Linked DNA regions of Homo sapiens: region 1 is linked to region 2. Evidence: fine-mapped expression QTL. A gene starts in region 2. The other region holds a variant in brackets. All regions are shown on one strand. Distances are from middle to middle. Region 1 overlaps PPARG (peroxisome proliferator activated receptor gamma). Region 2 holds the start of PPARG (peroxisome proliferator activated receptor gamma).

What was found. PIP is the estimated chance that this variant, and not a neighbour inherited with it, causes the effect.
Region 1: its variant is fine-mapped to the expression of PPARG in rectum (CEDAR, PIP 0.95). The same link has a PIP of 0.9 or more in monocytes, monocytes after LPS and transverse colon.

Annotation. Positions count from the first base shown.
Region 1 is chr3:12,424,580-12,441,176 of GRCh38, reverse strand. PPARG (peroxisome proliferator activated receptor gamma) reads right to left here. Exons shown (of 8, transcript NM_138711.6): 8 at 6,833-7,279. The coding sequence ends at 7,032. Among named protein-coding and RNA genes, the nearest start is that of TSEN2, 52 kb to the left of the region's middle. The variant G/A (reference allele first, on the strand shown) is at 7,119.
Region 2 is chr3:12,281,008-12,297,604 of GRCh38, reverse strand. PPARG (peroxisome proliferator activated receptor gamma) reads right to left here and starts at 8,535. Exons shown (of 8, transcript NM_138711.6): 1 at 8,471-8,535. RefSeq lists an enhancer at 9,974-10,552.

The sequences.
Region 1 (16,597 bases), 140 kb before region 2:
TCCTCGGAGGCCTTCCTGGCTCCAGCCCATCTGGCAGGCTCAGGCGGCCAGAGACCCCGGGCCAGGAGCTGCCAACCCGCTGACTCAGCACAACGCCCCTCTCTGAGCAGCTTGGCTTTGGGTGGGAACCAGCCATCCATCCGGTGTCCCTCCCCTCCCCTTGGAGGTGGCTGGACCAGCCCCAGGCCTTTAATAAGTGCTGGCTGTTGCCTGGTCCAGGCCTAGGTCGCTAGGAGGGCTGAATGCAAGCACAGGCAGCAGAGAACACAGGCCTCCGAGGGTCAGCCAGAGAGGGCTCTTTCTTCCTGCCAGCCTCCCCTGGAGGCCCCCAAGGCCTTGGGATATCAGAGCTAGAAGGGCAGACCAGCTCTCTGTGGAGATGGGGAAACTGAGGCTCTGAGAAAGTGACTTCCCAAGTCCCACTGCAAACCCCTATCAGACCCAGGCAACACTGGACAGGTCCTCATGGGCAGAGTCTCATGATTTCTTCTCTGGTGGTGGATGCTGGTTACCAATGTCCCCTGGCCAGGATGAGCTCCTAGCAAATCCTGTGAGGTTGGAGGTACTCGTCTTTTGAAGATTTTAATAGTTTATGGGACTTAAGCACTTCATCCACTTATGACCTCTCATTCTCACAACAACTCTATCAGATAGGAATTGGGGACTTCGCCAACTAGATGAAGAAACTGAGGCCCAGAGACAGGAAGCAACTTACCTAAGGTTGCACAGATAGTATGCGGCAGAACCAAAGTCAAACTTTAGTCTTTCCTGCCCTAACGCTTTTGCTCTGCCAACCAGGCAACACTGTCTTTGGTTATTCTGGAGACAGCACAGCATACCAAGAAAGAGCCCTAGCAGGGGTGGGCCTCTGGAAGCCTGAGGTCCAGCCTCAGCCCTGCCTCTCCATTTTTCTGGCCTAGCTCCTTCACCTCTATGGGCCTTTCTTATCTGTAAAGAGTAGTGATCAGGCTTGCCCTGCTTTTTTTCATTTACTCTATAAAACATGCAGGGTAGGTGCTGCTATTCCCATTTTATGGCTAGGGAAACTGAGGCCCATTCATCATGAAGGAATTAGATGTAATTTGCTGAGATAGTTCTACAGGCCAGGTATGATGTCCCCAGAGAGGAAAGTGACCTACCCAAGGCCACATACATAGAAAATGGCAGTGCTAAGTCTCAAACGGACAATGGGGGCTCTAACCTACACTTTCCGGCTTCCAGTATTGTGGAAAAATGGCCAGGGGATCACAATTTTCCAACTCTTGCGGGAAGCCACTAGGATCCTCCTTGAGTCAAGCCCGTGGCACTAAATAGACCCCAGGAATGACACTCTCCTGGGAACTTTTGGCCTGGAACATATTTACACAGCTCCGGAGGGGATGAAAATATCCCAACCCACTCCCTACAGACTCAAATTAGCAATTTTCTTATTCTTTATAACCCCTCTGGAAATTCCAACTATGTAATATTAGGCTAAAATTAGGAGTGTAAGTCACAAGAGAAAAGTCCCACTACTTGGGGAGAGAATGTTTTTGTAGCCTCATCCTGAGCATGTGTTCTAAATCAGAACACAGCAGTTGTCTTTCAAATACTGTTTTTTTCTCCTAATCCTTATAGATTGGAGGCAAAATCTTTTGAGAGAATGTATTTTTACTCTACTGCCAAGTGCCAAATTCAATCCCGGCTTTGAGTTTCCAGGCTCCTCAGGTGAGGTCCAGAACACTTGCACAGGAAGACCTGTCCCGTGGGCCCAGAATGCCTCCTTAAAGGTGGGGCACTTTAACAGCCGCGGCAATAACGTTACCCGCAGCCAACACTACCGACTGGTTTGGATGTACCGGGAACCTGTGTGAAGTGTTTTACAACCATTATTACATTTAAGCCTCATAACAGCCCTCTAAGGTGGATATTATCTCATTTTACATATGAGGGCAATTAAGGCCTAGAAAGATTAAGAGATTGGCCAAAGCCATATGGACCTAGAACCATAGCTGTGAAGTTAGACTTTTAACCCAAATCAGCGTAACTCTGCATTCCACCCCAGGGTGCCGTCTCCAATAATAGTTGCTATTTATTGAACACATACTGTGTGCTACACACAGTTCTAAGTGTCTTATATAATAATCTCTTTTGTTTTTAATATGCTTTTTTTTAATTTTTATTTTTGGAGACAGAGTCTCACTCTTTTGCCCAGGCTGGAGTGCAGTGGTGCGATCTCGGCTCACTGCAAACTCTGCCTCCTGGGTTCAAGCAATTCTTCTGCCTCAGCCTCCTGAGTAGCTGGGACTACAGGCACACGCCACCATGCCCAGCTAATTTTTGTATTTTTAGTAGAGACGAGGTTTCACCATATTAGCCAGGCTAGTCTTGAACTTCTGACCTCAGGTGATCTGCCCGCCTCAGCCTCCCAAAGTGCTGGGATTACAGGCATGAGCCGCCGTGCCCAGCCTCTAATTTTCTTGAGGTCTATGACCAATGCAGGCCTTTTCTGGACATGAGATATGGGACAGGCAGGCTTTGACATATGTGGATAAAAATGACCATGAGATCTCCATGAATTAGATTAAGAAGGTGAAACGAAGCTCCTGGAAGCAGAGGGCCTTTGTAGCTTGGGGCAATATGAGCAACGGTAGGGAATGGATATCAACAGGGGATAGGGCCAGTGTCCTTAAGCTGTTTATGATTGAGGCAAGATATTGCGACCAGATGAAAGGGAAGGAGGTGAGCTGGAGCCCCCAGGGTGCAGGAGCAAGCATGTGGTAAGTGTGAGCCCAGGGGCAGAGCCAGGCCTGCGGGGTGGAAATCACCCAGGGCCTTAGAGGGGAGAGAGCTTCTTGTCTCTTCAGTAGTTGTCTGTGGGTTGGGCAACCATCAGGAGCATTGTAGAGAGAATTTCTACTTTGGGGAGTGTTGACTTTCGGGGCGCTGACTTTCCAAATTGCAAATTTGACCATGTCTCTCTTCTGCCTGGCAGCATCCCCGGATCCCAGTTGCTACCAACACAGCCCGAGAGAGCTCCTCGTCAGGGAGGACAAGGCTCCCACAATTTGCCGCTGACTGGCCACATCCACATTTTAGCCTGGGAGCTGTGGGCCACGCCCCTCACCTGGCCGTTTTCTGAACGCTTGGAGAATTTCACACTCTTGGGCCTATGCACACGCTCTGCAAATCCTTTCACCTCTCTAGGCACTTGTTGCGTCTGCTGAGCTGTGACTACTCATCCACAGACTGTGCCCCCCTTGAGAGCAGGGCCTAGTCGCGGTCACCATCATAACCTGCTAGACATGACTGGAGTATGGATTATGTGTTTAATGAATGCGGTGGGGCTCTGGGACATTGTATGATCTTTTGAATTCTTAAAACCCTGCTATTTCTTTTCAGTTGGTGTTAAATGGAGGATGTACCAGGTGCAATCCCACGGTCAGGGTGGAGACGTGCAAATAACAACATTCATGATGCAGAGACAGCCAGGGGCTGAGGTCAAGAACCAGGATGAGGGGGTGAGCAGAAGGTAGGGAGGGGGCCACCTAGTGACCATCAGGCATCTTGGTCCTCCTGTCTCATAACCCAAACTCTTGGAGTGAATGAGTAGGAAAAGGGGGACCAGAAAGCAATGGGGATGGGCATGGTGGAAATGAGCTTTGGTTCTTTCTCTCAGGATGTAGAATTAGGAGCCCCGCACCCGCCCATCTCCACTAGGTATTTCCAAGGGAATGGGTATCCAGAGGCCAACATCCAGCCCCTCTCTCACCCAGCTCTTTCCATCAGCACCACACGGTCAGCGGGTGATGTCAAGCAAGGAGGACCTGTCCAGGAAAATACCTGCTTTTTAGCCTCGAGGGAGCCAAGAAAAAGTCACTGGAGTCCAGAAGCCACCAAGAAAGCCCGCCACAGATGCCTCTGTCCCCTTCCCTCTTTGCCCCTCAGTGGAGGTGGTGAAGCTGCCCCTCTGGCTTCCTCTAGTTGGAAATTCGCTATGTGACATCAGCTAGTGCTGCCACCTCTTCCGACCCTGAGCCTCCTAGGCTCCTTGCTCTGCACCCACATTGTAAAAAAGGAGCCAGAAACTCAGGCCAGCCTAATTTCTTATGGCGGCTGGAGAAACAGGGTGTGCAGCTTTGTTTCTTCTGTGTGTCCCCTCTTCGTTCCTGGGCTCCACACACAGCGGGAGGAAGGAAAAGGGAGCCCGTTCCAGGGAGGTGCTGGGGGAGGGCTCTTGTGGGAGCCTGGAAACCCTTTCTTGACTCTTGACCAAAGTTACTTTTCTTCCTATTTTTATTAACACACATCCCTACATGTGTTTGTGTCCAGAGAAAGTACTATGAATAACTGATGACAGATTCGTTAACTTATGATTCATCCTGGGGGAGAGAAAGAGGGAGAAAGGAGCAGGAGCTTTGGAGGCTGAATATAAAGTGTTGTCAAATATTTAGCAAATGATCTTCCAAGCCACAGGGAAAAAGTCAGAGATGGGAATTTGAAAGCTGCCAGGATTTAAAAGCCATTTAATGCTAACCATCAGTGCCAGAGAGCTGAGAGCGTTTCTCTTCCTCCTTCCATTGGCAGCAACAGCTCCGATAATGTGGAAAGGCTTGGATGGGCTGCGGAGCGCTGGTGGGAACTGAGACCAGGCAGCGGGGCTGAAAGACTTTTTGTTCAAGAAAGCTTGTAAATAAGGGAGCGCCTCAGAAGTGGACTCTATCTTGTCTACTGCCTGTACATTCTCTCTTCCAAGAGATCCCTGACCATCAGCTCTCTACACAGAAGACTCTAGCCAGTCATCTGGGTGTTTGAAAATAAGTTTCAAAATATCCTGATGTTTGGCATCAAGGAAGAAAAAAAAAGAGCCATATGACTGACTGAATTTGTCACTTTCCTTCCAAATGTTTTGGTGTTACTTAGACAATGGCTTCAGTCTTTGTCTATCTGTCATCCTAAAGGTTTGAGCTCAGAAAGGTCTCTCCTGAAGGGTTAGGAATCCTACATTTTTAGGGCTGGGGTCAGTACTCACTTCTATAACCTGATTCTTTGGAGATATAGTTATTTTTAAGCAAAAGATGAACAGGTCTTTCTTGATATTTTGGCTTGAAAACCTCAAGTCTGCAGTTATGTCTCCTGAGTGTAAATATCCTAAGGCAAGATAAATTAAGGGAGAAGTGGCAGGGAAATTTAGGTCAGTGGAAATAAGCGTCCCGCACAACAGACACCTCCAGATAGTTTGGTTACACTCGTAAGCTTGTCCAACCTGCCTTATTTTGTTGTTGTTGTTTGGTTTGATTTGGTTTGGTTTAGGCTTTTAGTAGCCTGAAGCCATGGTTTTTAATTTCTGTCCCTAGTGGTAAGTGGAAAAGAGGGATGAGGAAGGGGCTTTATTGGCCCAGTCAGAAACAGAAATGGAGAACCCATGACTCTATTCTCTCCCTTAGACACCCCGTAAGGCATTCTTCAAAGACATAGTATGATGAGTTCATGAGTAGCCAATGCAAGTGAATTTGGTGGATTGAATCAACGAATCTATTCACTGTGCCAAGAATGAATAGATTGTCACGCCTTCAGGGAACTTAGAATCTATCTGCTTGGGAGGCAAGCATTCCATTAATGATGCGGATAGTTAGCCTCTCAGTTCAGAAAAGAGATCTCTGGACAGAGTGGTCCCAAGGAGGAGGACAGGAATAATCACAGCAAAACTGCCTTGCAGAAGGAGAAAACAGAAAGTAGCTCTTCTCCCTCAGTTTTTTTTTTCTTTCATTGTGTTCCTGTTATTTTGCTTCTCTGGAATGTCTTTTCTCCTCCTCTCTACCTATTCCAGTCTAACACTTCCCTGAGGCCCTCTTCAGCAAATCCACAGATTCAGTCTCTGGGATTCCAATCTTCACTCATCTTACTTCCTACAAACTCTTACCATTCACCTGGCATGTGATTTCATCTGCGTATTTGAATCTGTATGAAAAAAGATTAATCTTTTCTCCTCAGTTTATAATCGGTAAATTCTTTTTGGCAGGTGTCAAATCTTTTTTATCTTTTTTTAGAGACAGGGTCTCACTCTGTGGCCCAGGCTGGAATACAGTGGCATCATCACAGCTCACTGCAGCCTCAACTCCCAGGCTCAAGCAATCCTCCCGCCTCAGCCTGCGAGTAGCTGGGACTACAGGTGTGTGCCACCACACATGGCTAATATTTAAAACTGTTGTGGAGACAGGGTCTCGAACAAGAGACCAGCTCAATCGATCCATCCACCTTGGCCTCCTAACGTGCGTGGATTAAAGGCTTGAGACACCATGCCTGGCGCAGATACCAAATCTTAAAAAAGTTCTGTGTTCCCCAGAGTTTCTAGCAGTGCTCAGTTGCTGGCCACTGGCTCTGTGGGTGCGCAGTGGCATTGATTAGTAGGTAGTATACGAGTAGGCTGCTGGTGGTGCGTGAAAATCTCGGTTAGGATTGTGGAAGAAGACTGAATTCTGGGTAATCCCAGGGATATGCTGCATATCAGCACATCCAGGCTACAAAACACATGCTCTGAGCAGTTTCTGATTCTGAAGTTCCCCTTCCCTTCTTAGTTCTGATTGTTAAAGCAGATGCAGAGTTCCGAAAAGTTGTAAATTGAGTAAAAAATTAATTTACTGAGAATGAAAGTGTATCAGCAGTTCCACTCACATATTTTAAAATGTCTAAGAAAGAAAAGAAAAATAAAGGAAGAAGGAAAGGAGGGAAGGGAGGGAGGAAGAGTGAGAGGGATGGAGGGAGGGAGGGGAGAAGGAAAAGGGGTAAAAAAGAAAGCCTGGGGGCTAGGGTGGGAAACACACAAGACTCAGTCTTCAAATACTATCAGCAATTTCATAATATGGTAATTTTTAATATTAAAAGTAAATTGTAAATGTGTCTTTATAAACAATATGCATAAAATAGATCATATTCTAAAACCTTTTCTTTTTAAAATGCTTTTTCACAGTAAATTTCTTAGGTGTCAGATTTTCCCTCAGAATAGTGCAACTGGAAGAAGGGAAATGTTGGCAGTGGCTCAGGACTCTCTGCTAGTACAAGTCCTTGTAGATCTCCTGCAGGAGCGGGTGAAGACTCATGTCTGTCTCCGTCTTCTTGATCACCTGCAGTAGCTGCAC[G/A]TGTTCCGTGACAATCTGTCTGAGGTCTGTCATTTTCTGGAGCAGCTTGGCAAACAGCTGTGAGGACTCAGGGTGGTTCAGCTTCAGCTGGAGCTCCAGGGCTTGTAGCAGGTTGTCTTGAATGTCTTCAATGGGCTTCACATTCAGCAAACCTGGGCGGTCTGGGGAAGCACATATGGAAAACACAACAGGGGGTTCAGTCAAAAAATCCTCTGGGCCCCGCCTTGGAGGCCTAGGCAGCTCTACCAAGCAACTCATCTGTATTTTTGGTTTGTTTTGCTTTGTATCTTAAATAGGTGGGGAGGAAGGGTAAGCAGATAATGGGTAAGAACTAAGGATGGAATCAGAACCAAAATGATCAGAGCTCTTTGCAGGGCCTTTTTCTGGCCAGGATGTAATCTGTGTGGTCAGCTGAGGGAGCATGGCATCAAAACAATCCTGTTCCCCAAATGAAGTTTCCTCTGCTAACGTGTTTCTACTCAGAAATCTCCTTTTCTTTTCTTTTCTTTTTTTTTTTTTTTGAGATGGAGTCTTGCTCTGTCATCCAGGCTGGAGTGCAGTGGCATGACGTCGGCTCACTACAACCTATGCCTCCCGGGATCAAGCTATTCTCCTGCCTCAGCCTCCTGAGTAGCTGGGATGATAGGTGCTCACCACCACGCCTTTCTAATTTTTGTATTTTTAGTAGAGATAGGGTTTCACCATGTTGGCCAGGCTTGTCTCAAACTCCTGACCTCAAGTGATCCACCCGCCTTGGCCTCCCAAAGTGCTGGGATTACAGGCATGAGCCACTGTGCCCAGCCAGAAATCTCCTTTTCAACTTCTGCTCCTTCCTGATGAATCTACGTTTTATAGCTTCTACTCAGTTTCTTATCATAGCTTCAAATATGCTTTTTTCACAAATATGCTTTTAAAAAAAGGTTTGTCTTTTTGCTTAATTTGCTTATGCTATGTTTGCTTAATATGGCATATTTCCAAAGGACAAAACACAGTTTTAAAATACTGATACATTTTAACAGAGGTTTCTTTTCAGTGGTAAGATTGCAAGCAATTTTCACTAGTTCTTCTTTAGATTTTTCTTTAGTTCAATTTGCAAATGGTGAACTTAAATTACTTTTAAGCAGTTTACTTTTTTCTTTATGTAGATCTTGTTAGATTTATTCTCAAATACTTTATAGCTTCTATTGTGAATGGACCCTTCATTTTCATTACATCTAATATATCCCCACTGATGTGCAGAAAACTAATTGATTTTAGTATATTGAAACAATTCCAATTTTCTGAACTTTTATCAGTTCAAATAGCTTTTAATCATGGATTTCTACTTTTTTTGGATAGATAATTATATCAGCAATGGTAGCTTTATTTATTTCTTCTTTTGCAGCATTAACCTTTCTCATTTCCTCTTCTTGCCATAGTGTGTTGGCTAAAACCTCCAATATGGGATTAAATAATAGTAGCAATAGTAGCAATTCTTGTTTTATTCCTAACTTTGAAGGAAATGCTTCTAATGGTTTATCAGCAACTATGATGTTTGCTATAGATTATGGAGAACATGTTTTACTCCTGGCTTTCCAGGGGTTTTACAATTTTAATTTGTTTTAGTCAGGAATGTTGTTGAATTTTTATCAAATACTTTTACATTTTTCTATCTAAAGAGCTATGATATCTGAAGAGTTATGGTTTTATCTTAACCTAGCACAGTGAATTACATTAATAGAGTTCCTTATACTCTTGTACTCACTTGCTAATATTTTATATAGAGTTTTTGTATTTGTAGGTGATACTGGTTTAGAGTTATTTTGGGGGCCATTCTTTGCCTGTTTTAGTAACAATGTTAACTAGCCTTATACACCAAGTTGAGAGGTTTGCCTTCTGTGTCAACGCAGTAATGATCTGTTCCCTGACGGTTTCTTAGAATTTGTTTGCAGAACCATCTGAGCTTGGTGATAAATCTATCACTATCTTTAATTTTTCTTCCATAGCTTTTATCTATTCAGGCTTTCTACTACTTATATGGTAAAGTTTTAGTAATTTATATTGGAATAAAGTTGTAGATGATATTGTCTTAGAATATGAAATGTATTATTTTTATTCACGCTCCTTAACTTAACGCTTTTTTTTTTGTGACAGAGTCTTAATCTGTTGCCCAGTGCAGTGGCATGATCATGGCTCACTGCAGCCTCCAACTCCTGGGTTCAGGTGATCCTCCTGCTTTAGCCTCCCAAGTAGCTGGGACTATAGGCATGAGCCGCCACACCCAACTAATTTCGAAATTTTTTGTAGAGGTGGGGTCTTGCTACGTAGCCCAGGCTGGTCTTAAACTCCTGGCCTCAACCAATCCTCCTGCCTCAGCCTCCCAAAGTGCTGGGAATATAGGCATGAGTCACCATGCCCAGCTCTTAGAGCTCTTTATTTGTGCATTCTCTCATTAAAAAAATCTGATTTGTCAAAGGTTTATCTATTTTTTGCTTTTTTAAAAAAGACATAGCTTTTGGTTTTATTAATCAAGTCTGTTTTTAAAAATTGTGTGTTTTGTTTTTAATTTATTGAATTCCTTTTTAAAACTTTCTTTAGGTTTACTTTCTTCTCTTTTTCTAGTTTTCTTGAGTTGAATGCTTAATTCATTTGATTTGGTATTCTTTGTATTCTAATAAATGCATTGAAGCCTCCACATTTTCTTCTTAGTGCCACTTTGGTTTCATCCCATGGGCTTTGATAAACGGTACTCTCATAGTTCTTTTCTAAACAGCTTGTCTTACAATTTTGATTTCATTTTTAACCTAAGAGTTATATAGAAGCATGTTTTTAAATTTCCAAGTAAAAAGTTTGGGTTTCAGTTTTTGTTTTCTAATCTCTAAGTTTTATTTTCTAATTTCTCAGTTTGTTGCCTTGGGTTAGATTATAAGGTTTTCTCAGTCAGGCTCATCAAGAAGACAGAACATTCACTTGATCATCTATCTCGTATTGATTTCAAATTTGAGCTCCTGAAGGCTATTTATTTTCTTTTAAAAACTGTAACTCTTCTCTCCTTCATGGTATGAGTTTTACCCACCTTTAATGTCCTTCATGACCTGGTCCTGGTCATCCTCTAGTCTCAGTTCTGTTTCATTTTGCTCCATGTTAAGCCATATTAATCTATTTCCATACCAAGTTCCTCAAACACCCTATGTTCTGTCAGGACTCTGCACTTATTCAGATTTTATTCTTCCTGCCTGAAACATTCTCACCTTCCCTTCACTCTTCTTATTGACTTCAACCATTTCTTCAAAATACAGCCTGTGGTGGGATTCCATCCTGAAATCCTTCCTCAACAGTATCCCTTCCTCTCTCCTGTTCATCTCATCTCCTTTCTCTGGGCCCTCATAGCACCCTATAAACACCTCAATCGCTACTATACTAGTAGATTACATTCACTGAATGGTTATTATTTTCCAAAGATCGTGCCAAGGGCCTTATATACGATATGCCATTTAATCTTCACAATAACCCCATGAGGTCATACTTTACAGAGGGAGAAATTAAGACTTAGAGAAAAGAGTTGCATCTTACCAAGATAGACCACTTGCTAGTAAATGCAGAGCTGACATTTGGATCTAAGTCTGTCTGGTTCCAAAGGCTCTGCTCTTATTCCTTATTATCTTGTATTGTAAGTTCTGACTTTCTTGTTTCTCCCCCGTTAGACCGTGAGGTATCAGAGGGCAGAGACTACGTTCTGAACCACCAGTGGAAACACAGGAAGCATTTGGTTGACTGAGTTAATGAGCGAGAAGGCTGTTCTGGCCAAGAGCCCTGGATCAAAAAGCACAATTCTCCTGGCTGGTGAACAGGCCTGAAGGCAGAATCCCTACACAATGAAGAAGTCTGTAAACGATGTTTTCCTGTGTCTAATAAACTCTAGTGACCTTTATCCATTGAGATAAGGCTCAAGAGAACAATGTGAGATGGCAGAGTGGTCTCAGAGTGGGATTTTCAGAACTCTAAATATTCTTCTAAGTTAACTTTCTTACTTTTCTTCCATTAAAGAAGGAAACTGGTCTTCAGTTTGATTTTTTCACTCTCAGGTCTCCAACATATCCCATTGACCAGAGTAAGTATAATTTTCTTTTTAGATTTCAGCATTCAATTTTGGAACCATCAGCAAAAGATCTCAGATTCTGAGAAGGAACAAATGATCTGGTCCTGGCCTGGAGAATTGGGCCCCTGGGAGCATGGGGTCTTCCTCGCAGTTGCTCTATGGGAATGAAAAAGCCACTGATGCTTCATTGAAGGCTGGGCCCCAGACTGGCACCTTGGTTTAATGACTACAGATCCTCCTGCTTGATGAATGTGTGCATCTCAAAGGCCAGAGGCAGACGTGCATCTAAAGACAGGTGCCGAGAGAGGCCCTCCTGGGCTGGGACCACTCAGCCTGGGCTAGGCCTCTGCTTACTAGACACTGGCTCCCGGAGCCTTTCTGCAGCTCCTCCTTCCTCCACCTGCTTCTTTTTTTTTTTTTTTTTTTTTGGTAGAGACAGAATCTCTACATTTTCCAGGCTGCTCTTGAATGCTGGGCTCAAGAGATTTGCCCTCCTCAGCCCCTCAAAGTGCTGGGATGACAAGCGGGAGCCACCGCTCCCAGCCTCCTCCTTCCTCTTGAGCAGCACCACTGGGGTCAGCCCTTGGGCTGAGGAGATGATGTTAATCTACTAGGTCCCGTTTATCATACAAACAAGGACTAACATGCAACTGATCAGGGCTTGCTGGAAACACTTGGCTCCGGTGCAGTGTCATGGAACTGGCCTCTCTAGGAGTGGAGAGGGATCTGGTTTGGATTTTCAAACCCCTCTTTGGCAAGTTATTCTTTATGATGTGATGGATGAAGCTTGGCTGAAGGGCTGAAATTTTGTGGCCACGGAGTAAGTATATTTTCTGCAATGACAAGTTAGATCATTTACAGATCAGTCCCATTGTCCCCCTGACTGAGCCTCCGTTAAGGCAAGATGGTTTAGGGAAGGAGGGCAGCAGAGAAAAGTTGCATATTCTACATCTAAAGCTTTCACTCACCAGCTCTGTGACCTTGGGCAAACTGATTAAGATCAATGGGCTCAATTTTCTTGTCTAAACAAAACAGACCGGACTAAATAGATAATCTCAAAGATTCTAATTCAAAAATTGTAAGATGTATTCTCATTTGTAATTCCCTCTACATAATTCAACTGGGGAAATATACTCAAACATCTAATTGAAAAAGCATATTAACATTAAACTTAGAACACCTGACTTACTTAAAAACAAGAACGCTTCCTTTGGTCTTTAAGCTCTAGTCAAGGGCAAAATGGATCTGCCAGGGTTGTTCCCTACCCTCCACCCTCCAACTGGTCACCAGCTCCCCACTAGTCTCTTTCCCCTTTCTGCTCCACGCACACTCAGTCCTTTACTGAGCTAAGCCAGGTGCCACAGTTGTGCCACAGAAATCCATCCAAATACCCAGACAGTGCCAGGGCCTTTCTCTTCTCTCTCCATTCCCAACAGCCTAGTGCCTGAAAAGGCACTGTTGCCAGGAGGCCCACCTGAGATCCTCTCCCTGCACCTTGCTGAGGTTACAGTTGAGTCTGGAGTAGGGCCAGGGCCAAGGGTCCTCTCTGCTGGGGTAGGCTGCTTAGAAGGCCCTTTTGGGAAGTGTGTGTGACTCAGACTCCAGGACTTAGCACTCGAGGAGGCTGGAGTCAATTACTAGTTCCCTACTCCCCAGGCTGTGAAGAATTGGGAAAGAAACCTTTCCGGTCTCCATCCACACGGTCCTGGAATTGATTACAGAGCACTGTGGATTATGGGCAAATCTACAAAGCTTCCATCTCGTCCAGATCTGGTACTGTTAAGTGGAGGGTTTATCTGAAGCAGATTCAAACGTTCTGGTCCTCTTGAGATCTGCCCACCTGGGCTGGGTGTTTCCCTAGCACAGATTTTCTCAGGAGGTGTCTCAATTAGGGAACCAGATGACCACAGTGGAGTCTCCTGAAGAAGAGGCAGAAAAAATGCAGGTGGTTTTGTCTCTATTCTAGGAGCTGCTCTCCTGGCTTTCTGCATCTTTCCCTATTGGCTCTCTGATAGAGACTAATCTGAAACCGACTGTCCCTAGGGCGTTCAAAACCAAAACAAACAAACAAACAAAACAAATGTGATTGCAGGGCAGCTGTAAATTGATCCACAGACAATGAAAGACCTTAGTTCAGGTGTGGGCTGAAAACTGGAGGGGAGGCAGGGCTACTTAGGGAACCCAGTACTTTGCAATTTAAGTTCCTTTTGCGCTTCCTCTCAAGTTTCCTTTATTGCACTGCTCCCTCAGTTCACAGGCATGTTCTAGGAGGCAGTGGATTGGGAAACTGAAGACTTGAGTCCTGTTTCTCTTCCACTTAGTTTCTGTGTGCCTGTGGACAAATCATCTAATCTTTCTGGGTTTAGGCTTAGTTTTCAAGACAATGACATTTCTTTCATAAGCGTATGGTGAGAATGAAATAGGTAGAGGAACTTTAGAACATATTATAATTCTTGTGTTTGTTCGAATAAAGGCAGTTTCCATGGGGTTGGGGTCAGGAGTGTAAGTAGGAGTGGGTGGCATATCAACAGTTATGAAATTGAAGGTTTTTGAGTTGTTCTTGGTTAGAGCAGAAATTCAGGAGCTCAAGAAAAATAATGCCTGATGCAGACACGTTTGGGGTTTCAGGCAAGTTCTCGTTCCTGTAGTTGAGTGCACATAGGCAAGGTGGTTTAAGAACAATAACAAAACAAAAAACCCACGGTGCCCCAATTCACTACTTCCTTGAAGAAATGATGCTGGGAATTTGAGGGTACTTTTCTGATCCAATTCAGCAAAGTATCATGGTGTGGCCTATAGCAATTCCTTCCCACCATCCTACCGATAGGAAAAAATTATTCAGCAAAGTTATACATGTGTCCTCTTAATATTTAAATTTGAATCGGAGCTTGGTCTAGTGCAGGGATTATCAATTTTGGCTACATATTAAAATTATCTGGGGAGACTAAAAAAGCAAACGAATGCCTGGGACCCATCCCTAGAGATTCTGATTCACTTGCCTGGGGTATGACCTTCAGGATTTTTAATAGCTCTTGGGTGATTCTAATGTGTGGCCAAGGGTGCACACTGCCAGCTGAGTGAGACGCAGTTGGAATTACAACTTTGCAAGCTAGGTAACCTTGGGCAAGTTCCTTAACCTTTCTATACTTCAGTTTCCTCACTTTAACAATTGGAGCTGTAGCGGTAATTTAACTCATAGTGTTGGTCAGAGGACTGAGGGACATACGGAAAGTGCTTAGCACAGTGTCTGTTGTACAGTAAATTAGCTATTACTATTTTCATTACTGCTCTGTAAACTTGCCTCATTTTCTTCTTACCTTTCTTTTCCTCTCATTTCTCTGATTTTCTTGGGTCCTTTCTACATTTTTCCTATTCTTTCTTCCTCAATTATTGCTCCCTTCAGCCTTTTTCTTTTCCCTTCAGCCTTCCCCCTCCCTGCCCCCCGCTGCTTTCCGGATGTTTTCCCCTTTCCACTCCTGGGCCTGCATCTTGCTGGGGATTTATAAGAACGCTAGCAGGGCCAGCTTAAATTAATCAGAGGTCTGAGCCATGGATGATTTGAGGAGCAATGTCGTTTACTGCTGCTGCTTTCAGGGAAAGGGGATGACATAAAATAGAGATCTTGCAAATGCTTTGACAAACAGATAAAGATCATCTGTAACCAGCACATTCTGCAGTGAACACACATGTTGCTGGTAGAGCCTTCGCTCTGAAGTGGGTTAACATTCTGACACTTGCCGGTTTAAATAACAGTTTCACATTTAATTGCTTCCCCTATCTATGCCTGATAACAATAATATATATGACTGGGCCAGGATGGTGGAGCGGGATAACCATAATAAAAATCAAACCAGCCAATGTTTTCTTTGATCTGCCCATTAAATAGCGATTACATCTCAACTTGCCTCATCTCAACACTCCACTCCCACCTCCAATATGCAACTCCCAAACCACAAAACAGTGCAAGCCCATCTGGTGACAGGGTGGGCAACCCTTTCCTGTGTGCCATGTTCAAAGCCCCTCCACTCAACAGCACCACCAGTGGAAACTGAGCATGGGCTCTGTCATTTCTGGGTCTCTCAGAGTGAAAATGGAACCCGAGATTTCTGTCCGACCCCGGAAAGCCCTTGGGTCCCTACCTCTGTGCACCCTGGGGTTAGAGGCCCCCTGTCGTTCTAGTCATTCCAGGTCACTCAATTTACGTCCAGCCATGCGGTTTGCTCCCCACCTTTTTGTCAGGACCAGGGGAGCCATCTGCAGTCCCCCCTTAAGCCTAGTGATGTACGTACATTTCTGCTCCTTCTCTGTCCAAGAAGGAATCTGACTGGGGCTGGAAATGCAGGGTGGGAGGTAGAGGAAGAAGGGTGGTGCTGAAATAGGAAGAACGATCCCTTCCAAGTCTACCACTAACCTGCCATCTCCATGCCCTGAATCCGTCTGGTGGCTCTACCCTGCGATGCTCTGGGCAGGATAAGGGGAGGGAAAGGAAGAGATAAGGGAATACCAAGAACTCCTACCCTTCCTTACTCCCTCAACTTCTGGAAATGGCAACAGCACATGAAGGGCAGTAAGTGAAGTTAAAAGCTGCCAGGTATGACTTCTCTCCACTCCACTCCCCCGCTGTCCTCCTTCCCAATGTCTCTCAGAAAAACCTGTGATCTCAAAACACATGCACGCTCTCTAAATATGGTCTAAACACATGAAGTCCCCAAGAAGTTCATGGGAATTCCTGAAGGCTGGGAATCCAGCAGACCTGCCATTCCCCGTCTCCTTCGGGGGCCACAGGACGTCCGAATCCTCCCCACTTCCAAGCCCTCCCCTTCCTCCAGGATCTCTTTCCTTCTGGGTTTTGTTCTCAATCCACACCTAATCCCCTTAAAGCGATAGTTGATAAAGCGATTAGCTGATATCCCCTAGGGGTATTTATATTGTAATAAGCGATCTTAAGAATGACTGTTGGTGGCATTTCCAGCAATGTGACTGGCAGGATTGAGTGGCGCTGCTTCAAATCATATCATATAGGGCAAAAGGGAAAATTAGCATTTATTGTGTGCTGAACATGTCCCAGGCATTGTGCCAGAGGCTTCACATCATGTTATTTGGTTTGCTCAGGGTCCTGATAAGGAAATTAAGGCTCAGAGAGATAAATAATTGCCGCAAGCACACATCTAGGAAGAGAGAGAGTGGGGATTTGGAACTCCTGTCCCTCTGATTCCAGGGCTTTGCAATGGGCCAGCCTGCCTCTTCTGGTCTACCTACTTGTGACGCTGGTGAGCCCTCCGAAGATTTCTCCAGGACTGAGTGATGCCTTCACTACCTCTGCTAGGAGTGATTTGAACCAGTGCTGGGTTTTCATTCTTCCTCACTTGCAGATGATCTGTCTGAACGTCTTGGTGAACTG
Region 2 (16,597 bases):
ATGTACAGGGAAGTCCAATATGTGAAATAAAATTTAGTATAAAATAAATTTTGGGTATAATAGGAAAAAAATCATATATTGCCTTGATCTTTACTATCAGAAGCACAGACACACCAAAAAGAAAAAAAAGCTATAAATGTATGCTTTTGATTATAGAAGTAATTTTATACTACTGAATAAACTTTGGGAAAGAGAGAAAAATATAAAAACAAACAAAAAGCCCTCCATATCTCACTACTGTAACATAACTATTATCACTTTTGTATATTCTCTTCCAGACTTTTTCATATACATACATTTTTGTAAGGTTCCAATCAATAGTTCACACACATTTTTTATCCTACTTTTTAAATATTCTTCAGAGTTGTGAGTAGTTTCTAAATTGTCATTATAACTGTACAATATTTTAACTATTGATTATACCATAATTTATTTAAACATCTCCCTACTGTTGGATATTTAAGTTACTTCCAAATATGGGTTCTTATAACAATGCTTTTATGAAACTCTTCGTGTATACGGCTTTTCCTATATTCTCCAGCCCTTTGGAAAAAGTCCCAAAAGTTACAAAACATTGCCCAATGCTTTCTAAGTAACCTGAACTAAATCTTAGTGACATCAGATATATATGAGTGTAAATCTCTTCAATCCTTGAAATTATAGAATTTTAAAATAAAAAAAACTATTATCAACAATCACTAGGAAGGGAATATTTTCTACTATTATTAAACTGGAATTGAGGTTTACAAATCCATATCTTGTAAATCTGTTTAACATGAACCAGTCCTCTAGGGCCGATCATCTTCTGTGATTTTATAAAATCCAGTCTTTGAAGTTGTAGTCTTTGACGCGGAGACTAGGGATTCCTAAGCAGCCATGCTAAGCTAAAAAGAACCAGTGTTGCAAGGTCTAATTAGTGAGCCGGCTAGCCTCTTGACAAAAGCTTATTGACACCACTACTGAGCTTTTCTAAGTAATAAATGATAGGTCAATGGGGGTAGTTTTATAGGATGGTTCCAAGAGATCCTATGAGTGGAGAGAGATAGGGCAAAGAACTTAACCATAAGCAAGGGTAAGGCTTACTAGAAATCATCCAAAGCACACTGACAAATGGGCCCCACTCTATCAGGTGGGGTGCAAGAATCATCTTGGACCAAGAGTTCCCAAACAGCGTATAAAGCAGAGTCCCTAAAACACAGATTGCTAGGCCCACCACAGGTCTGGGATGAGGTCCAAGAAACTGCATTTCTAACAAGCTGCCAGAGGATGCTCACGATCCCAGGACCACATTTTAAGAACCACTGCCTTAGACTAATTCTTTATTCTTTTTTTTTTTTTTTTTTTTTTTTTGAGACAAAGTGTTGCTCTGTTGCCCAGGCTAGAGTGCAGTGGCACAATCTTCTCGGCTCACTGCAACCTCCACCTACCGGGTTCAAGTGATTCTCCTGTCTCAGTCACCCGAGTAGCTGGGATTACAGGTGTGTGCCACCACGCCCAGTTAATTTTTGTATTTATTGTAGAGACGGGGTTCTGCCACGTTGGCCAGGCTGGTCTCAAACTCCTGGCCTCAAGTGATCTGCCTACCTCAGCTGCCCAAAGTGCTGGGATTACAGGTGTGTGCCACCATGACCAGCTCTTTCTTCTTTCTAAAACATTTAAGTGCCTACTAAGAATTGTGCTATATGCTGGAATAGAATTCAGTCAGTACCTGCCTTCAAGAAATTGGTGTCTAGATTTTTGCAGACATCAAACTGCTCTAGTCCTAAAAGTCACCAAATTTGAGCCTTCTTTGCCAGGCACGGTGGCTCACACCTATAATCCCAGCACTTTGGGAGGCCGAGGCAGGTGGATCTCCTGAGGTCAGGAGTTCGAGACCAGACTGGCCAACATGGTGAAACCCCGTCTCTAATAAAAATGCAAAAAATTAGCCAGGTGTGGTGGTGGGCGCCTGTAATCCCAGCTACTCGGGAGGCTGAGGCAGGAGAATCACTTGAACCTGGGAGGCGGAGGTTGCAGTGAGCCAAGATGGCGCCATTGCACTCCAACCTGGGCAACAAGAGCGAAACTCCATCTCAAAAAAAAAAAAAAAATTTTTTTTTGAACCTTCTTGAAAACAAACTGTAAAAATACATTATATTGCTTTTAAATAAAATCAGGATGTTTCTAATCAGTTCCAAATTCTTTAGGAAAACATGTAGTAATCCTATATTGCCAAATGCCTGGGTATTTTCTTCACTCTTCTGGATTATACTTGACATATGCAAATGATTTTTGAAGTTTCTACTTCATTTATATTGACATCATTCTTATGTTTGTTCTCCTTTATAAACTTTATCCACCATATAAAACAGAAGAATTTATATAGGTGCTTTTCTAGATGCAGTCAAAAGCTTGTTTACACAGGTAATTATCAACTGACGGAAAGGATAACATTCAGTAAGGAACACTTTGAGATTCTCTGTTTTAGATTCACAGACTTTAGCAAGACTTTGTAAAAAATGCATGACGAGTAAGCAATGTGATTAGTCATGAGGCACGAGGGTAGCCCATACCTAACTGCTAAATACCACCTATTAGCTGATTCACAGAATTATGACCTTGCTTTTGAGGTGGCTACTAAGTTTCTATTTCTAACAGAGATGCACTGGCTTGCCATACTATTTTCAGCAAAAATAAAATTAAGTATGTATAATAATAATTATTATTATTTCGAGACAGAGTTTCACTCTTGTTGCCCAGGCTGGAGTGCAATAGCGTGATCTCGGCTCACTGCAACCTCTGCCTCCCGGGTTCAACCGATTCTCCTGCCTCAGCCACCTGAGTAGCTGGGATTAAAGGCACGTGCCACCATGCCGAGCTAATTTGTATTTTTAGTAGAGGTGGGGTTTCTCCATGTTGGTTAGGTTGGTCTCAAACTCCTGACCTCAGGTGATCCTTCTGCCTCTGTCTCCCAAAGTGCTGGGATTACAGGCGTGAGCCACTGCGACTGGCCGCATGTATGATATTTTATGATCTGTGGATCTGCCAAAGGATTAAGCATTATTTATACTACCTTGGCACATCATTTTCTGAAGTGATTGAAAAGTTCCTCTCATTTCAATCTATTAGGAAGCTACTTTTAAAGCCTGGAAGAGTTGACTCATGAAGAGACCACATAATTTGTCTAACATCACAGAGGAAATACAAGATATAATGAAGTGATAATATTCAGATATTTAATTACATTAAGATAATACTAGCTCATAACTTGAACTGTGATTACATTTCTTAGTTTAATTGATGTTTCAGAATAACTGTTTTGAGGTCAAAAATGGTTCAAGGAAGATCTGCGACTTGTCTTGACTAAGAGAAAAAAAATGATGGGTAAATATATCTTTTCCTATCACTGCTATTCCAAATGGTTATTTTCCTATTTTGTTTCAAAGTTTCTGGCTTATGAGGAAACTGGGACATGCATTAACTTTATTTTTCCCTCTCCTAACCCCCTCTTTCAAACTCCAAATCTGTTTTCTACTCCTTAAAGGCCTTGTTTTCAGGTAGCAAGGAAACAAGCAACTAGCCTTTCACATTTTTGCTGATAGTGGTTTAGTGAACTAACCCTGCCAGGAACTTTGGCATTTTAAAAGTAGACCCAAAGCTTTCAAATTCAAAGACATTTTAAATTTCAATTCAAAGACATTCAAATTCAAAGACATTTTAAGAGGTGTATGACAGCCAGAGGGGTGTGGTCAAGGTTAGGAAGTTCCTTCCGGAACTTCATCATTGCACTCGAACAGTTTGACAGTTATATTTCTCCACTGCCCTCGATATGAAGGAAAATTTATTCCTTAAACATACAGGATGAAAAAGTAACCTCTTTCCATTCCCTTGCCCAAATTATCTCCTTTAGTATAGAGCCAGAAAGAATAACAGTGCTAAGTGGCAAACTGAGATGTCCTACAATGTCACCAAGAAGCAGGGTAAATTCTTAGAAATCAACCTTATATTTTAAGACTATACACAGTAATCATGCAACCTGCTGACTGTGGGAGTTGAGCATATACAGACCTGGTACATTCCTACTCAGGGTATTTCCCTATTTCTCTACCTCCCTCATATCTACCTTCTCCTTACCTGTGGCAAACTGCGAAGGACTTCTCACCCCACGTTTTTGCTAATCTGAACTCTTCTCAGAAGGTCAGATAATCTGACTCAATATGTCATATCCACACATAATCCTCCCAGATGAGTCCACAAATTAAAGTGGTTTTTTTTTAATAGTGACATAGTTAAAACCAAGCAATGAATTTATTTTCTAAAATCAATGAAGTGGAATAAAAATGCTTCCTAAACAGATATTGAATCCAACTGAACTGAACTTACACAATCTAGTTTAAATCCTGACTGGAGGGTTTAAAATCTCCACTTAATGGATTCAATTCCTTTATATCTAAAAAATCGCAGTAGGAAAAAAAATTCATGGCACTGTCCCACAAAAGATTTTCAAGTTGAGAACAGCCTGGCCACTGGAACAGTTGAAGGTATGGCAATGACTCTGAGAAAGCCTACGCTGTAGGATTAAGGCAGTGGAAGATAACACGGCTCCCCACTCCCGGACAGGGACACTCAGCCCACCTACACGCACCAGCATGAGCCTTTCTTTGCCTTCGCCTCTGCATCCTTTTAGTGAAGTCCCTACTTGGGCTTTATAGCTCCACACTGCAGTGGGCAGAGTGGCTTGCCAGTCCAGTGTGCAGTTTGGGGCCCAGAGAAGGTGGGAGAAGTCCTCTCCAACAATCCTCAGCCCCCGGGGCCCACGCACACAAGCCTCTTCACCCCATCACCCCGTGTGCTGTTACCAGTAACTTCCCATCACCAAGACACCGCTTGCAGAGGCCTCCTCTTTGGCATATTCAGTCCAAGTCCCTTACTTTCTTAAGCAGGAGACACTTCACAACAATATGTATCAACAATTCACGCGAAGAATTTAAAATTTATTATTTGGATGGTGCACAGTTAATTATATGTTTTTCCACTTACTCCCTACTAGCAAATAGGTGGGTTATTAGGAGATATCTGAACCTTTCAAGCCACTAAAACACTATTTTTTGGTGAGTGCTTGTTGAAAGAGACCCATTTTTAATGACAAGCACAAGTCACTATTTAGTCTTTTAAGTTGTGACACTAAACTGTCTTCTGATCTGATGGATCCTAGGCCTCATTATAAAACGAACTTGCTCCTGGGGAATATACGTTAAGAATTCACAAGGTGTGCCATAAAGATATGCAAAGACTAGAGCTTTATCAAATCAAAGCGCACAATCTGTGCCTTCTAGATGCATCGGATGTATAATATTAACATAAGAGGGGCTACACAGGACTCGCAAAGCTGGAATAAAAATAATTACTATGCTGATTTTTGTCCAAAGTCATCAGGGAATGGAAAATACAATTTTAAATTGAATGATAATAAAATATTCCCAGAAACAGTTTATAAATTGATCACCACATGAGAAGCATCATCTTCAATCTTAACAATCTCAAAGTTATTGAGGTTTGAACTACAGTGAACTATTAACATTGGTAAAAGAGTTAGCTATGACATAGATATTCATGAAGGTTCTTTTCAGAATATCAGCTCAATTAAATTCAGGGTCATGGTCACATCATTTAAAGTACATGGGTTTGCTCATAAAGCCTTAAAATCATAGCAAAAGAGCAAGCAATAATAACTGCAACACTTTCTCCGTTTCAAAGATGACAAAATTGAGAGAAAGGATAAGGTACTTGCCTAAGCCATAATAATTGAAACAGTTGAAAATGTAAACAGTCATACTCTGAATGAAATTCTCGGCATTAAAATATTGATGTGTACTTATTGTTGAAGAGAAATTTTAAAAATATGTAAATCTGTTTTTACAAAATAATTTAAACATATACTATTATTGATGACAGATATTATCTAAACATCTACAAAAGTTTTCCCCAAAACATGGCCTATTGCATCTGAATAGATTTTATCCCAAGAACCTACTTTAAGTGCATTAAATAAAATTTAAAACATGACATTTTAGTTAAATAACAGCTTTAAAACATATACTATATTACTCCCCCAATCTACCTCTGTATTTTGAGAAAACGCAAACAGTAAGTAAGAACTTCCAAGAAGATTTCAAATAATCTTAAATCTAAATTTTTGATTTAGAACGCTATGAAACTAACTGAAGTTGATACGCTGGGGATATCTACACTTGCAAGATGGTTGTTCACAACTCTTACTATTCTTTTGTGGAGTCAAATTAGATCCGTTTCAAAGGACCTTTGTAAGCAATTAAAATCACTGCGCTTTTTGTTGCTTTGGGATATTAAGAGAGAGTAAGCAAAGTGGAGATCTACCAGGAAAAATAAGCAAATTAGAAATTCAGTTGTGGGGGGTGCATATGTTTACGCTTACACACTAGTGACTTCACCAAGTTTTCTCTATTAGTGAGTTTTTAAAAATCCTCTACAGCTAATATTTATTTAGTGGAATCCTATGAGACCAAAAACTTCTTCCAGTACATTTGCCACACCTAATGACATACTGTATTTCCAAGTCCAAGTGACAACGAATCCAGCAGAAAGACACCCACAATTAGAATGACCAACTCTGTCCTATGCATTGGGAATATATAGATGCTAGGAAAGAAGTGAAAGTGTGGGCCAGAATGTGTGAAACATTCAGAAAATGTCATTTTAACATATTTTCCTACTTCATGAAAGCCTCTTGTTATTAATAACGATTTTATAACCTGAAAACTAAATGAAATGTATTATTAATACTTGTATATGTTCCACGGTTGTGCCTTTTACACAGCTTTCATGCACATAATTATCTTGATAATTAAGGTTAGTGGCTAACATCCTTATTGTCAGAAAATTACAGAAGAAAAAAGTATTTGTTTATATTTATATAACACTGATTAAAAACAATTCACTACGACCATTAGTAATCCACTTCTAATTCATATTCCTCATGTCACACCTTTTCTCTTGTACACATTTTAAATGTCATAGGAATTTAGAAATATTGCAATTTAAAGCATAATCTAGAATTTTTTTAAAAGTAGTTCTGAAACATACAAAAAAATGAACATTTAGGAAACTAGTCCTTCAAAGAAAATATTATATTTTATCATTAAAAATATCAATCGCAAAAATATTTTCAAAGCACTTAAGTTCAATAAAGAATATGAGGCCGGTGGACATTTTAGTTTTAATTTTAAAAAGAAATTATATTCTTTTTAATGTAAAGAAATGAGAAAACGACATCCAAAAAGTCTTCAGCCTGGGATTCTACAAAACTTTATACCTCACTGATGCCATGGTTTTACAGCAGTTATTGTTTAAGAACTAGAAACAAACTTGTAAATATGAAAAAAGTTTTTGATTTTAAAAAAAACCATCATTAGTGTTTCTCTTTTCCTTCAAGTGAGTTTTAAAAGACTGAGATGGCCACCAGTTGATTCAAAGATCTCTTAAGACATAATTATTAGCAAGTTAACTATCAAATATCATATAATTTAAATCAGGGAGAAAAATTATGTGAAGTACACAAGAAGACAAAAATGGACAGTTTTGTAATACACTTCACTTTTTGGCTGAGACATTACCTTTAAAGTTTCGTATATTAAAGTGAATATTCAAATACACTTTATTTGGAATCAAATAAAGTGTATTTGATTCCAAAGTGAATCTGATTGAAAATATACTACACAAAACTTACTTTAAAACTTGAACAGAATGTTTTGATATATTACTCCAAATGCTAACTGGTAGCATCTATGAGTGTCTTCTGTCAAACTCCCCTAGGAGTGAAAGGTATTTCTTTAAGAGAAAAGCCACAGTGAATGTCCATGCCAGTCCCTATACCAGAAAGGTTTTCTAAATCATCTAGCACCATCAGTTGGTTCTGTTCTCAGTCAGCAATCGATCACTTAGCAATAGACAGAAAGACTGCCATAAAATACCTGAAACCTGTCGAAGATTTGCCCAGGTCCTTTTAAAGAGTTAAGTTATTCATTGTTCTCTTAATAAATCCAGTTAACAATTTGTCTCACGAATGACAGAAACAGTTGGGGTTAAAATAATGTACTTCAAAATCAGAGGTTTTCCAGGAATAGGTATTATACAACTCAGTTTATCATTGTCTGGTTTTATATCCAAATGATAATTTACACAAATAAACTTTACATTTTGTCCCTAATCTTGCAAGGAAAAGAAGAAAAATTTTAGTTTCTTCATGGCAGACGACTATTTTTGACTTGATTTCTTTTATAACAATGACACTATTTTTACAACCGTTAGCCTATGACCCAAGTGAATTGGATTCTTCTTATAAAACAAGAGCACTGCAAAAAAAAATGATATAAGGATAATACAATAATTTTGCAAATTTCGGACCTATCACCAACACATTCCAACAAAATGCAATGAGAGTGAGCCAACTCACCTAAGGAAAGGGAATTAAGCAGAATGCAGAAATGCAGGCTTCTGGTCACCAGCAGAGGTTAAGGCCCCTTCCTTACCTACCACTGACCTTATATAAAAGCCGCAGCTCGGTTACTCCCCGTTTCTGACTCCTTACCTTAGGCTCCTCCCTAAACACCGAGGCGTAAAGTACCACGACTACACACCCACCTTCCACCAAGGGACCTGAGATTTCTGTTAACCTCTGCTGCCTCTACCCCCCTCAGTTAGGCTCCCAGGAGGAGTGGTCAGCGCCTGGCACTTGCAGGAGCCCACAAAGCAGCGACTTCGCCTTTCCAGCCCCCCGGGGTGCGGCTGGGGGTCCTGGCTGCGCGCTCCATCCGCGGAGGCACGGAGGCACCCAGTCCCCGTCCCCAGCCCCTCCGCCGGGCGTAGGGCCAGCACAACGCGTCAGGGCACAGGGCCTGGCCAGCTACAAGCGCGCCCCTCGCTGAACGGTCCCCCGGTCCCCAAGCGGCGGTCGCCCCTGGGCTCTGGACAGCGAACGGGACCTCCTCCTCAGCAGGGGTGCCGCGCGGCCTCAGGACGGACGCACGCGGATCTTCGCTTCCCCGGGTCCAGACACCCTGCTCCAAAGTTCCCCCGGAGCGGCTCCCGACGCTTGCGCACCTCCGCCGGGGACGCGGAGGTCCCCGTGTCCCCGGCTCCGCGCCCACCCGGCGCTCTCCCGAGGGGGGCTGTCCTGGAAGCCGGGACGCACCGGCTCGCGTCCACTCGAGTCGGCACCGGCCGCGGCTCTCTGTGCCCGCGCCCTCCGCCCCTAGTGCGCGCTCCGGTAGACGCGACCCTCAGCCCGGGTGCCCTCAGCCCAAGACCCCTTCACCCGGTCACCCGTGAGCCGCCCGCCCGCGACCCGTCAGTCCGGGTCCTGCCGGACCATGACCCTGCCTCAGCCCCGGACCCCTCAGCCGAGACCCCCTTCTCCCCAGCTCTCATCCGTCTGGGACCCCGTCAGTTCCCGTTTCCTCGGCCCTAGCCCCCAGACCCTCGGCCCCAGCCCTCCGCGCCCCCTCCCTGAGCACTCCCCGCCCAGCCAGCAGCCGGTTCCCGAGCGCCGCGGGCACCCGTACTCTGACCTGCGGCCACGGCGGCGTGGCGCCCCTCTCCGGTGTCCTCGAGGCCGACCCAAGCGCCCCAGGCGGCGGCTGCGGCTCGGGCTCGGGCTCCGAGTGCGCTGGGCCCCGCCTGCCCGCGGCGGAGCCGGGTCGGGCCGAGCCGGGCCCGGCGCGGGGGCGGGCGCGGGCGCCGGCTGGGGGTGGGGGTGGGGGTGGGGGTGGGGGCGGGGGCGGGGGCGGGGGCGGGGGCGGCGGCGCGCGACTGGGAGGGAGCGGCCCGGGCTCGGCCGCCGCCCGCGCACAGTAGGGCCCACGGCGGGAGCCACCGGCTTTCCCGCGTCCACTCTCTGCCCCGCGGCAGGCTACCTGGTGTCGTTTGCTCCTCGCCACCACCGCTGGGAGGCGGCCCAGAGAGGGTCCCATTTCCGAGGAGGGATCCGAAGTTTAGGGGGATGCCCCCGGCCAGGGCCGGTCTGGGGAGACCGAGGTGTGGGGCTCCCTCTCGGCCAGAGTGGCTTGCCCTTCACACGGCGATCGGCCAGGCCGTCTTCCCAAGATGTTCTTTCCAGTGACATTTTAAAAGAAAATTTAATTAAAGCATATTTCGGGTCCCTTGGTTTTCTCTTCTGATCGGTGGTGCTGCACACTTTCAGAGTTCCTTGCGTTTGTAAGTTACATGGTTATTCACAAGTCACTGACTTTTAATCATTAAAAACATTTCTTAAACTCATTAACAGAATTTCTTAAATTTCTTAGCAGTGTTTCTGACACCGAGGGACTCAGACAACATGGGTGGGGACGGAGTGGGGACGTGAGGCACGAGAAACAGTTTCTCATGTGTTGGGTAGACAGTGACCTTTTCTTTTCCTGCCACGCTGTCCATCGTGACCTGTCCAAAGTGGGTTGGCAGGTGCGCGTTCAGAAAGCCGCTGGTCTCCTGGACTTGAGGCCCCTCTTTCCCTTTTTCCAGTCTTATTTCTGGAGCATACTGTTCTGGGCCTGATCCTCTTTGGGGAGGCAGCGATGCCTGAGGCCCCCCACTTCAGGAAGCTTATGGACTGTATGCTGGGGTGCTCTGCATTTCTTCCTAGCTTCATTGTGGTTATTGCCCCTCTGGTACAGAAGGTCCTCGTTTGTGGTTGAAGCAAAGTTTTGCGAGGATGGGTATCACAAGGGAAAATATTCAGCGCTTAAATCAACATAATCATGTCCTTCCTCCACAGCCCCTAAGATAAGAAGCTGAGAGCCACGGATCTTACAGGGACTGACCACTGAAAGACCATTTATTGGCCTGTGATTTAGGTAGTCAGGTTGACCCGGATCCACAGTCTCCACTCAGGCGGAAGTGCTCCGTGCGTCCTACTTCTTGTTAATTCCAGAGTTCCAATCTGCTTTTTTTTTTTCTTTCTTCCTTTCTTTTCTTTCTTTCTTCCATGAGACAGGGTGTTGCTGTGTCGCCCAGGCTGGAGTGCTGTGGCGCAATCACGGCTCACTTCAGCCTCGACTTCCCGGGCTCAAGGAATCCTCCCACCCCAGGCTCCCAAGTAGCTGGGACTACAGGTGCACACCACCATGCCTGGCTAATTTTTTTTTTTAATTTTAATTGTTTAGTAGAGACTGTGTCTTGACATGTTGCCTAGACTAGTCTGAAACTCCTGGGCTCAAGTGATCCTCCTGCCTCAGCTTTCCAAAGTGCTGGGATTATAGGCACCAGCCACTGCGCCTAGCCTGCTTTTTAAAATCACAGCTTTATTGAGGAATAATTAATATAATCTAAAATGTAAATACCATAGAAGTAAAATGTACAATTCAGGCCGGGTATGGCAGCTCACGCCTGTAATCCCAGCACTTTGGGAGGCCGAGGCAGGTGGATCACTTGAGGCCGGGAGTTCAAGACCAGCCTGGCCAACATGGTGAAACTCCATCTCTACTAAGAAATACAAAAATTAGCTGGGCGTGGTGGCACGTGCCTGTAATCTCAGCTACTCGGGGGGCTGAGGCAGTAGAATCGCTTGACCCTGGGAGGCAGAGGTTACAAGCCGAGATTGCGCCACTGCACTTCAGCCCCAGAGCAAGACTCCATCTCAAAAATAAATAAATAAAATGTACAGTTCAATGAGTTTTAGTTTATTGACAGAGTTGTGCCATCATCACCAAATCTACCCTTAGAACATTTTCATCACTCCAAAAAGGAACCCCCTCTCCATTAACAGTCATTCCACCAACTCTAGATAGAGATATTCTTTCTCTATAGATTTACCTATTCTGGACAATTCATATAAATAGAATCATAGAATATGAAGTCCTTTGTGACTTTCTTCTTTCACTTAGCATAGTATTTGTGAGGCTCATCCATGTTATAGCTTATATTAATATTTCATTCCTTTTTATGGTCAATATTCCATTATACACATATACCACATTTTGTTTATTCATCCCATGAATTGATGAATATTTAGGTTGTTTCTACTTTTATGGGCTATTATGAATAATGCTGCTGTGAGCATTCATGTACAAGGTTACTTGTGGACATATATTTTTATTTCTCTTGAGTATATACCTAGGGACAGAACTGCAGGATCATAAGGTAACTCGGTGTTTTTGAGGAACTGCCAGTCTGTTTTCCAAAGTGGGCACACCATTTTACAATCCCACCAGCAATGTGTCAGGGTTCCAGTTTTTCCACATCCTTGTCAACACTTGTTATAGTCTTTTTTATTTTAGCCAACCTAAAGGGTATGAAGTGATATCTCATGGGGTTTTGTTTGTTTGTTTGTTTTGAGACAAGGTATTGCTCTCTCACCCAGGCTGGAGTGCAGTGGTGCAATCATAGTTCACTGCAGCCTCGAATTCCTGGGCTAAAGCAATCCTCCCACCTCAGCCTCCCAAGTGGCTGGGACAACAGGTGCATGCCACCACACCAGCTAATTTTTGTATTCTTTTGTAGAGATGGGATCTCACTATGTTGCCCGAGCCGGTGTCTCATGGTTTTGATTTGCATTGCCTTGGTGACTATCCCGTTGAGCATCTTTTCATGTGTTCATTGGCCATTTATCTTTTTTGAAGAAAGTCTGCTTAAATCCTTTCCCTGTTTTTAAATTGGATTATTTTTCTTTCTATTGTTGAGTTGTGAGAGTTATTTATTTATATAGTCTATATCCGAGTCTCTTATCAGATACATGATTTGCCAATATATTATTCCAGGCTGTAAGTTGTCTTTTTACATTTTAAAATAATTATTTATTTATTTATTTATTTATTATTTATTTATTTATTTAAAGACGAGGTCTTGCTATGTTGCCTAGGCTGGTCTTGAACTTTAGGGCTCAAGTGATCCTCCTGCCTCAGCCTTCTGAATAGCTGGAATTACAGGCAGATGCCACCATGCTTGGTTCTTTTTACTTTCTTGATGTTGTCATTTGAGTTTTTAATTTTGATGAAGTCCAGTTTACCTGTTTTTTCTTTTGGTGTCGTGTCAGTGACTAACCCAAAGTCATGAAATTTGCTCCTAATGTTTATTTTAAGAGTTTTATAGGTTTAGTTCTTACCTTTAGGTTTTAAATTCATGTTGAGTTAAATTTTGTATATGATGTGAGATGGGGGCCAATCTGTTTTTTTGGTCGGAAAATTCCCATAATTCAACAACAGTGACTAAGGGGAACCCCACAACAGTGAATTCGTAAGTGGTGCAAAACTTTAGAGTTGAGCTGAATATTTTCTAAATTCCCTCTGGATCAAAAATTTTGTGATTTTTTTTTTTAAGGAGACTTATGGGTAGTGAAGTGTATAAATGTAAGAGGTTAAGTAATGTAAACTGAAATAATATGTCTGTTTTTCAAATTGCAAGGCTTGATTTAGTAGGTTATGAAATCAATTTATTCAGTCATAATCAGTATTTTTTAGTCAAGCAAAAAGGACAGAAATAATCAGAACATGCCTACTGTATTAAAGAAAGTGCTGCTTCGTAACTTTTGTGTAATGCATGTGTGTGTGTATCTGAGTGTACCAGGAGTTGGTATAAAATGTGGTTTTTACTGTGGGCCATATCTTTTAAAGTTGGAAAAACACTGTATAAACTATAGCTGTAGAATTCTTTCTTTCCACAAACATTTTATTGAGTGCTTATTTTGTGCCAGGCCCTCTGCTAAGTGCGGGGAATAAAATGATAAACAGCACATGGTCCCCACCCTGCAACTTTGCACATAGGCAGTGCCATCCATATGGGGTTCCTAGAGACGAAAGACTATGCCCGTTTCAATTTTTCCAAACCACAAGGACTCCTTCCAAATATTGGTGTTTGGTCCCATGGTCCCATGGTCCCATGGGACTTCTTTTTTTTTTTTTTTTTTTGCAATTAATGCTTAGTTGATTATCTCATTTGAGATTTGCATACATATTTGCTTTTCTTTCAATAAAGAGGACTTTGTTCCCAGGTTTATAATTACATACTATGTTTATTATATTAAGAAGAGAGTGCAAGTCTAGAAATAGAAGTTTACCATAACTGAATTGTTTTCCATTTTACTCCAGCTATATTTAAACTGGTCTCACTGGACAGACCTCAGATATTTTATAGTAGTGTTATGCTACTTCTTAAAGGAAAAATTTAAAATTGTAGCAAAACTTTTTCATTATCATCCGAGTGTTCGGCAAAACTGGGCATTGAGAATAGTGACATGTAAACCATTTTGCAGACTGAGTTTAGGAAAGTTAGTGTGCTGTATTTGAAGTCAAGCAATCAAGCCACTCATTTATAGCAGCTGTGTATCATCATAGCGCTGACATTTGCTCCTTCTCTTTATCTGAGACACCATTTATCAATCTCTAAGCCTTATAAATTCCCAGGAGGTTTAGAAGATCTTAATTTAAAATTTCAAAAATCATAACCAGTTGAACATGCCAGGCAGGTTAAACATACACATATGCACACACACACACTTCCACAAATGTATCTACTTTTTGAATGACTCTGACATGTTCCCACTTGTGATTTTTATGTCTAGTTATGAAATTTTACCCACAACCTCCCAATTTTACTTTGAATTTCATTAAGGTCCTTTTCTCCTCCTCTGTTTATTCTGCCTCCTCCGATGTTGCCCTTCACAAAATAACTTGCTCATCTCTTACAAGGTCTTAAGGACCAAAGCCAGATTTACAGCCTTTTCTTCTAACTTAAAATTGCTTGATCTTCTCATATACTGTATCCCTCTGCTTCACTCAGCATTCTATTTCTATTTTGAATGGTTGCCTATAAATAAATAAAAATTTCTGGGACATTTTAATGGAAATATTAATCTTGATTATATTCAAGTCAAGAATATAATATAGCTATGTATTGGTTCGAAAAACCCACTGAGAGGCCAGGCGCAGTGGCTCACGCCTATAATCCCAGCACTAGGCCAAGGTGGCCGGATCACTTGAGGTCAGGAGTTTGTGAACAGTCTGGCCAACATGGTGAAACCCCATCTCTCTACTAAAAATACAAAAATTAGCTGGGTGTGGTGGTGTGTGCCTGTAATCCCAGCTATTTGGGAGGCTGAAGCAGGAGAATCACTTGAACCTGGGAAGTTGCTGTGAGCCAAGATCGCACCACTGCACTCCAGCCTGGGGGACAGAGGTGCGATAGCACCAAAAAAAAAAAAAAAAAAAAAAAAAAGAAAGAAAGAAAAGAAAAAAAACCATGGAGAATATAGCCAAATTAGTAATTTTTCTCTTGATACACCAACGTGGAGCTTTCCTCTAGGTAATTTTTTAAAATGGAAAGAAATATAATAACACCCTTTTAAAAGCACTGAATGAAATAACTCCTTTTTTTTTTACTCATCTATTTTTGAAAACATTTTATTTTATTTTTTATAGTTTGGAAACGCCTATGAAATTAATAATGACATTTAATTTCAGAGAGATTTCACTTGGTAATTTCAACAGTTTTGAGTTAGACTATTTACATTTTAAGATTTTAATGGTTTAAGACACATTTGAAAGGTTCAAAAGTGCTTTTGGTTTTCAGGGAATAAAAAAAGAGCCATTTGTCCTGCTTTCTCATTTTTTCTCCACTTTTCCCCCTAAAAATGGACCTACTTTGGGTATCAGTTTATCCTCTAAGTATCAAGAGGTAGGAAGCCGACTGAGTAGAAGTTAGGATGATGGGAACTCATGATTTTCTTGGAGGGGCAAGTCCTGCTTTCTAGTTGTCTTCTCCTTTCTGAAGAAAGAAATTCTGTTTTAATCAAGTACTGGTGTAAAGGAAAGAACCCCGGGCTTTATTTCTGCTGGTTGTGACTTTGAACAAGAGATTCAACCTCTCTGAGGCTTAGTTTCCTCATCTGTAAAATGGCAATATAATATATTCTCAGGCCAGGACTTTGAGGCTACAGTGAGCTGTGATGGTGCCACTGTACTCCAGCCTGGGCGATGCAGCAAGACCCTGTCTCTAAAATATACATACACACACACACACACACACACACACACACACACACACACATATATACACACACACACGCACACATATTTTTATATATATTTATATATATTCACAGATGTTTGTGTATGTCTATATATATTTTAGAGACAGGGTCTCTAAAATAGGAATATATATATTATTAGAAAACAAAGAATATACACATATATATTCTCTTAATCTCATCAGTGAGATAACAGGAGGAATTACCAAATCAGGCTCCCAGTAGGAACTCAATAAATGTTATTTACCATCTGGATGAAAGCATTGAGAATACTTTTACTGCTAGTCACTCACTAATCTGAAATAGTCACTCATTAATATTAAAACACAGTTTGGATGTTAAAATCTTTAAAAATATATGTTTCCTCTTTAGTTATCAGTCTACATGGACATTCTACTCTCTTTTTTGCATGTGAAAAAAAAGTCATGAGTCTAGTGGGTAGACTTTGAAATAGCTATGAATCTGAGATTTCTGCATGAACATGGTCTTCTCAGGACACTTGTGTGAATTTATAGATTCTGCTTTGTCTTATAAAACTAAACACAAAACCAAAAACTTTTTATTATG